Linked DNA regions of Homo sapiens: region 2 is linked to region 1. The links come from fine-mapping of genetic effects on gene expression. Tissue or cell type: whole blood. Region 1 holds a variant in brackets; the other region holds the start of a gene. All regions are shown on one strand. Distances are between the middles of the regions.

The links. PIP is the estimated chance that this variant, and not a neighbour inherited with it, causes the effect.
Region 2: LIME1 starts here. The variant in region 1 is fine-mapped to the expression of LIME1 in whole blood (INTERVAL, PIP above 0.99).

The regions. Positions count from the first base shown.
Region 1 is chr20:63,696,774-63,699,524 of GRCh38, reverse strand. TNFRSF6B (TNF receptor superfamily member 6b) reads right to left here. Exons shown (of 3, transcript NM_003823.4): 1 at 2,334-2,751; 2 at 2,003-2,197; 3 at 841-1,245. The coding sequence ends at 962. ARFRP1 (ARF related protein 1) reads left to right here. Exons shown (of 8, transcript NM_001267547.3): 8 at 1-878. RTEL1-TNFRSF6B (RTEL1-TNFRSF6B readthrough (NMD candidate)) reads right to left here. Exons shown (of 38, transcript NR_037882.1): 36 at 2,334-2,751; 37 at 2,003-2,197; 38 at 827-1,245. Among named protein-coding and RNA genes, the nearest start is that of TNFRSF6B, 1.5 kb to the right of the region's middle. RefSeq lists enhancers at 34-83, 154-333, 574-623, 1,719-1,768. The variant G/A (reference allele first, on the strand shown) is at 1,299.
Region 2 is chr20:63,735,172-63,737,796 of GRCh38, reverse strand. It overlaps LIME1 (Lck interacting transmembrane adaptor 1), which reads right to left and starts at 1,133. Exons shown (of 6, transcript NM_017806.4): 1 at 1,085-1,133; 2 at 150-264. The coding sequence starts at 247. It overlaps ZGPAT (zinc finger CCCH-type and G-patch domain containing), which reads right to left. Exons shown (of 7, transcript NM_181485.3): 6 at 2,233-2,625; 7 at 1,655-2,016. The coding sequence ends at 1,878. RefSeq lists a silencer at 1-97 and enhancers at 32-948, 1,528-1,707.

The DNA of each region.
Region 1 (2,751 bases):
AGACGGCGAGTGTGGCTCTGTCCATCCCTTCCCTCCTGGAGGGTGGAGGCTCCTGGCTGTTGGACACGGTGATGGTGTTACTGGGCTGCTCAGGGGCTGGTGGGCAGGTGAGGGGCTCCCCAGGTGGGCCTGGAGAGTCCAGGCACTCCCTTCCTGCGGATGTGGGAAGGACATGGGGTCCTGGGAGGAGCTGCTGGGAAGGGGCATGAGTCAGGGTGGGGGTGGCGCAGCAGCTGCGGGGCTGTGACTCACAGGAGTCGGGCCCTGGAAGTCCCCGCGTCCTCTCCAGGGGACCCTGTGTGTGTTCTGCAGGTTGGTTCCCAGGACCTGGGGGGGACCTCCAGCCCCGGGAACCTGGCCGTGCTGGGGAGGCGAGTGGCTGGTGCAGCCCCCCGGTTGCTCTGGGTGCATCGGGAGGCTTCAGAGCCTGCCCCAGAGAGGGAGAAGCTTCACTTCCCGGAAAGCATGGGAGGCCTGGAGGAGGTCTTTGGCAGGTCCCCTCTCGGGAAATCCCCTGTGAGTTGGGAGTGGGAGGAATTCATAAGTGGGGGGTTAGTGTGGGCCCCGGCGACTAGGGCTGGCCTGAGCCCCATCCTGTTCTTCCAGCAATGATACCCTCCCAGGCCCTGACCCTCGCTGAGCTTCAGGGGCCCCTGCCACGTGCCACAGCCACTGGGGGCAGAGGTGGCACTCCCCACTGATCCTCCCAGGGAGGGTCTGTCTGAGGTAGGGGAAGCCCCGGGCAGCAGTTCTGATGGCAGGCAGCCTGAGGGATCTGGGCACAGCGGGCGGCTCAGGTGTCCCCGGCTGCCCTCCCAGTAGCTGTGCAACTACAACCAGTTTTATGAAAAAGCTTTATAAAAATAAGCTTTAAGAAACCTCATTTCTTCTATTTAAAAAAAAGCCTCTTTCAGTGCAAGTGGGGTGCCAAGGATGTAGAATAAATAAGAGGGGGCCAGGATCAGTGCACAGGGAGGAAGCGCTCACGGACGCTCCGCTCCAGCCCGGGCATCCTGGCCACGCGCAGCGCCTGCAGCAGCCGCACCAGCAGCGCCCCGTCCTGCGCCCCCAGGAGCTCCGTGAGCCGCCGACGCAGCTTCAGCTGCAAGGCCGCGCGGCCCGCCCTTGGTGTCGGACCCCAGCCCTCCGGGGCCTCGAGGGCCTGCAGCAGCCGCTGCAGCCTCTTGATGGAGATGTCCTGGAAAGCCACAAAGTCGATGACGGCACGCTCACACTCCTCAGCTCCTGCAGTGGGGTGGGGAGGCAGCGGTCCGATCATTTCACCCACACACACTGGC[G/A]GGGGCTGCCAGGTACCCTGCTTTCTGGGCCCCACTCGGGGGGTTTGCAGGAGAGAGAAATCCCTGTGCAGTGAGCCGTGCTGGAGAGGGCAGTGCAACGATGGGGACTGGAGAAGGGGCAGGAGCCTTCGGTCAGAGAGCTGGAGCAAAGGCCTAGGGGGCAGGAGCGGCCACTCGGACCTTGGCTGCAAGAGGCAAGGGGGCCCAGGCAAGGGCTTGGGGCTCCTGGGCCATCGGAAGGGGCGAGTTGGGACCTGCAGATGGACCGGACCTGACTTGATGTTAAGGGGGTCACTTCCCCCTGTGACTTCTCAACAGTGGTTAACATTGGGCCTCGGTTTCCCCATGTCAGAGGAGGCAGCCACCTTCCTCTCAGGCAGTTAGGAGAGTTACCATCAGGCCTCGGTTTCCCCGTGTCAGAGGAGCCAGCCACCTTCCCCTCGGGCAGTTAGGAGATTGCTGCCCACTTTCCCAGAGCTCCCCAGGGGAGGCTGTGCCCTGGCTCAGATCCAAATTCTCAGCCACCCCTGAGAGGGCAGACTTGGTGGGGATCTAGTGGAGGGACCCCTGACCCCTCAAATCCACTGTGGCCCCTTCCCAGAGCCAGCTGGCATGCCTCAGGCTAGATGCACGTGCAGGGGCAGGAGTGAGGGCACAAGTGGGCCTGGCCTGCAGTGTGCTGCCCCCTCAGGCCTCTGGCTCACCTGGTACCCTGGTGCTGAGGGGGAAGCCAGTGCAGCTGGTGCACAGGGTGTCATGGGAGGAAGAGCCTGGCACATTGAGGGCCAGGCCCAGGGCCGTGCAGTTGCGGTGGGGCTGGCACTGCTCTGAGCTGGAGCTGCTGGCTGAGAAGGTGCCTGGGGGGCACGGCTGGCACTGCGTGTTCTGGCTGGGGGTGCCTGCAGCCAGGAGGGAAGAACAGGGTCAGGGGAACTGGTGTCCTAGCTCAGGGTGCAAGGCTGGGACCAGCAACCTGACCCCTGCCACACCTCCGGCCACCACTCCTGGGGGCCCCTCCCCTCGCCCAGCTCTCACCCGGGGCAATCACGCCGGCACCAGGTGGACACGATGCGTGCTCCAAGCAGAAACCAGCGTGCGCGAAGAAGCCGGTGCGGCAGCGGCAGGCACGGTTGTGGGTGGCGTGGCAAGCCCGTGCCTCCTCCTCACGCTCCCCGCAGAGGACGTTGCAGTAGCGGCAGCGCTCTAGGTAGTTCCAGAACTGCGTGTAGTGGCGCGGTGGACACGGGCCACACGTCGTGGGGCTGTCTCGGCGGCACGGCCGCTGCACAAAGGTGCCTGGGGGGCACTGGGCGCACACCAGCCGCTCCCCTGTCTCTGCGTCCCGCCAGGGGTAGGTGGGTGTTTCTGCCACTCCGCGTACAGCCGGCACCGGCAGCAGGGCAGGCAGCGCCAACACCAGGCACAGCAGCGACAGGCCTGGCCCCTCCAGCGC
Region 2 (2,625 bases), 38 kb before region 1:
GGGGCGGGGTCGTCAGCCTCGGGTCCAAGGCCCGGTGCAGGCGCGCGTGCCGAGCTGGGTGCGCGGACCTGCCTCCAGCCCCTTCCCGCGCTGGGCTGTGAATGGCAGCCGCAGCGAGGCCCCAGACAGAACGCGGCTGAGGGACCTACCTGCGGCAGGCTGTGCACAGCGCCCACAGCGAGAGGAGCAGGGCGCAGCACCCTAGAACCCAGAGGGCAGGAGGGGCCCAGGACACTGGCAGCCCCATCCTGTGAAGCCGAGGCCCTGGGGACAGAAGAAAGGGGCGCTGGGGGCTGGCCAAGGGGACCTGGCGCCACCTGGCAGCCCCAAATCTGCACCTCCCGCGGCTGCGGGGCTCCTGCGTCTCCCGTTCCAGCTCTGACTCAGCACAGGAAGCCCCAAGGCCTGGCAGTCCCTCCCTCCCAGAGGTGCCCACCTTCTGGCGGGGGCTCCCGGTGAGGTGAACTAGGGCTGCTCTGCCTGGCCCCTCCGTGTCCCTGCGGGTGACCACGGTAACACCCAGCACGGCCGTGAGGAGGGGCAAGACAGCTGTGGCCACCATAGCCCAGATAGTAACCAGCATCGGGGGAGCCCCTGGGTGTGCGCCACAGGCCACAGACTCCACCTGCAGCCACCCTCTGCCCAGACATGGTCTCCTGTGTCAGGTAGTGCCCCCAAGCCGCTCGCTGCGGAGCCCAGAACTGGGAAGAGCTGGAGGCTGGTCAGCAGGAGGGACCCTGCACCCGGAGGAGCTGGAGGCTGGGTCAGCAGGCAGCAGCAGCTGCTGGGGGTGCTGATGCCCCCACCCCACTTCTCTCTGGCTCTTCTTGTCTGCCAGTGTCTCTGCCAGAGAGGATCTGTCCCCTTCTTGGGGATCTTAGCAGAACTTCTCGGGGTGGGGGATGCCTTACAAACAGCACAGTCCAGCAGCAGAGACAGAAGCTGGGGGGTGAGGGGTGGTCTCTGGAGTTTGGGGCCAGTCTGCTCAGACCCAGGGAGTGGGCTTCAGCCTGGCTGACTGACCCAGCTGCAGCCACATCCCAAGGCCTCCCAGACCCCAGCTGCCCCCCAGGAGGGCACTTACCAAGCCCACGGCCAGGGGTCCTCAGCTCTGTCTGGGGCAGGCCAGGAAGGTCTTTGTGCAGCCCTCGGCTGAGCTCCCCACCTCATCACTTCCTGCTCCTGTCGCCAAGCGCCTCCCCTGAGCCTCCCACCCTGGGCAGCAGCCACCACCGCAGCCTCACCCACCTGCTGCGCCCCGCCCGAAGCCTAGATGAAACGTGTGCGCCTCTAGCCCGCACTGTTCTGACAGCCTAACTCACAACCCCTCCACACACGAAGACGTGAGCAGAGCTGGCACAGAACCCCCAAACCCACAGGGCCAGGTCCGCCTGCCTCACCAAGAGTGCCCCACGTGGTGGGCCACAGTCCTCTCCCGCCCGTCTCGCCCGCTGGAGCAGCACTGAGCTCCACCCATCTGTGGGTGTCAGGCAGCCTGGCGGGCACCCTGGCCTCCGATCTGCCTTGGTCAGAGAAGGGTAAGAAGGGAGAATGCCGGCCTCCTAGGCCCCTCCAGCCCAGCCCGTCTCTCACCACAGCCCTGCACAGACCCTTCTCTCCCCAGAGACCCTGCAGCCAGCTGATCTCCACTGAATGACACTGTGATGAAATCACTTTAATGTCCTTGCCAAGGAAATGCCCAAGACACTGGCAGGTGGGCAAGTAAGTGTCCAGATGGGACCCCGCAGCTCTGTCTCCACTCAGCAGTGTCTGCACGCCCCAGGCCAGCAGGCCGGCCCCTCCTCGGGCAACACTGGTCTTCCTGAGGGCAGCCCGTGCTGGGGTCCCACGCTTCGTCCATAGTGCTTGTGGGGTCTCTAGAACTCAGTCATCTTCTTGTGGGTGTCTGCCTTCCTCTGCTCCTGCTGCAGGCCGGCTTCCTGAGCCCGGAGCTGCCCCAGCTGGCGCTGGGCTCCTGCCAGCTTCTCCTGCAGCTGGGCTGACGCCACGCTATGCCTGCGGAGGGGCTCACTAGTCAGCGTGGGGTCCTGGGCCATGCCACCAACCCCAGTCTGCCGTACCCACTGCCTGTGTGCCCGCTGCCCGTCCTCCAACATGCAGACCCCTCCTGGACTCAGCCCGCTATGCTTGGGTCAGGTGACCTCCAGCATGTATCCCGGGGGCAGGGCCACCCTGGGTCGCCCTTTGCCCTGAGCTGGGCCCCACACGTACCGGCCAGCGTTGCGGGCGAGAGCCTCCTGGATGCTCCTGATGTCCCGCTGGGTTCGCTCGATCTTCTCCTCAGTCTGGAAGAGCCGCAGGCTCAGGGCCCGCTTGGCACTCTTGCTGGCATGGTACATGTCCTTGCTCCTCCTCCCCGCTGGGGCCGCCCCGGCTTCTAGGGCCCCAGGAGCCTGACCTTGCAGCTTTTCATTGAGGAAGTCAAACACATTCCGAGGAGCTGGGCGGCCCCCAGGCCTGGCCCCTCTTCCCCGGCACCTGGGGGGCTTGTTGGTGCCAGCCTTGCCAACCCTGGTCTGCTTCTGCAGGGTCTCCACACACTGGTCCAGCGACTTCCCTCGAGGCAACACCACAGCATGGATGGGCTCCACCCGGCCTTCCGCG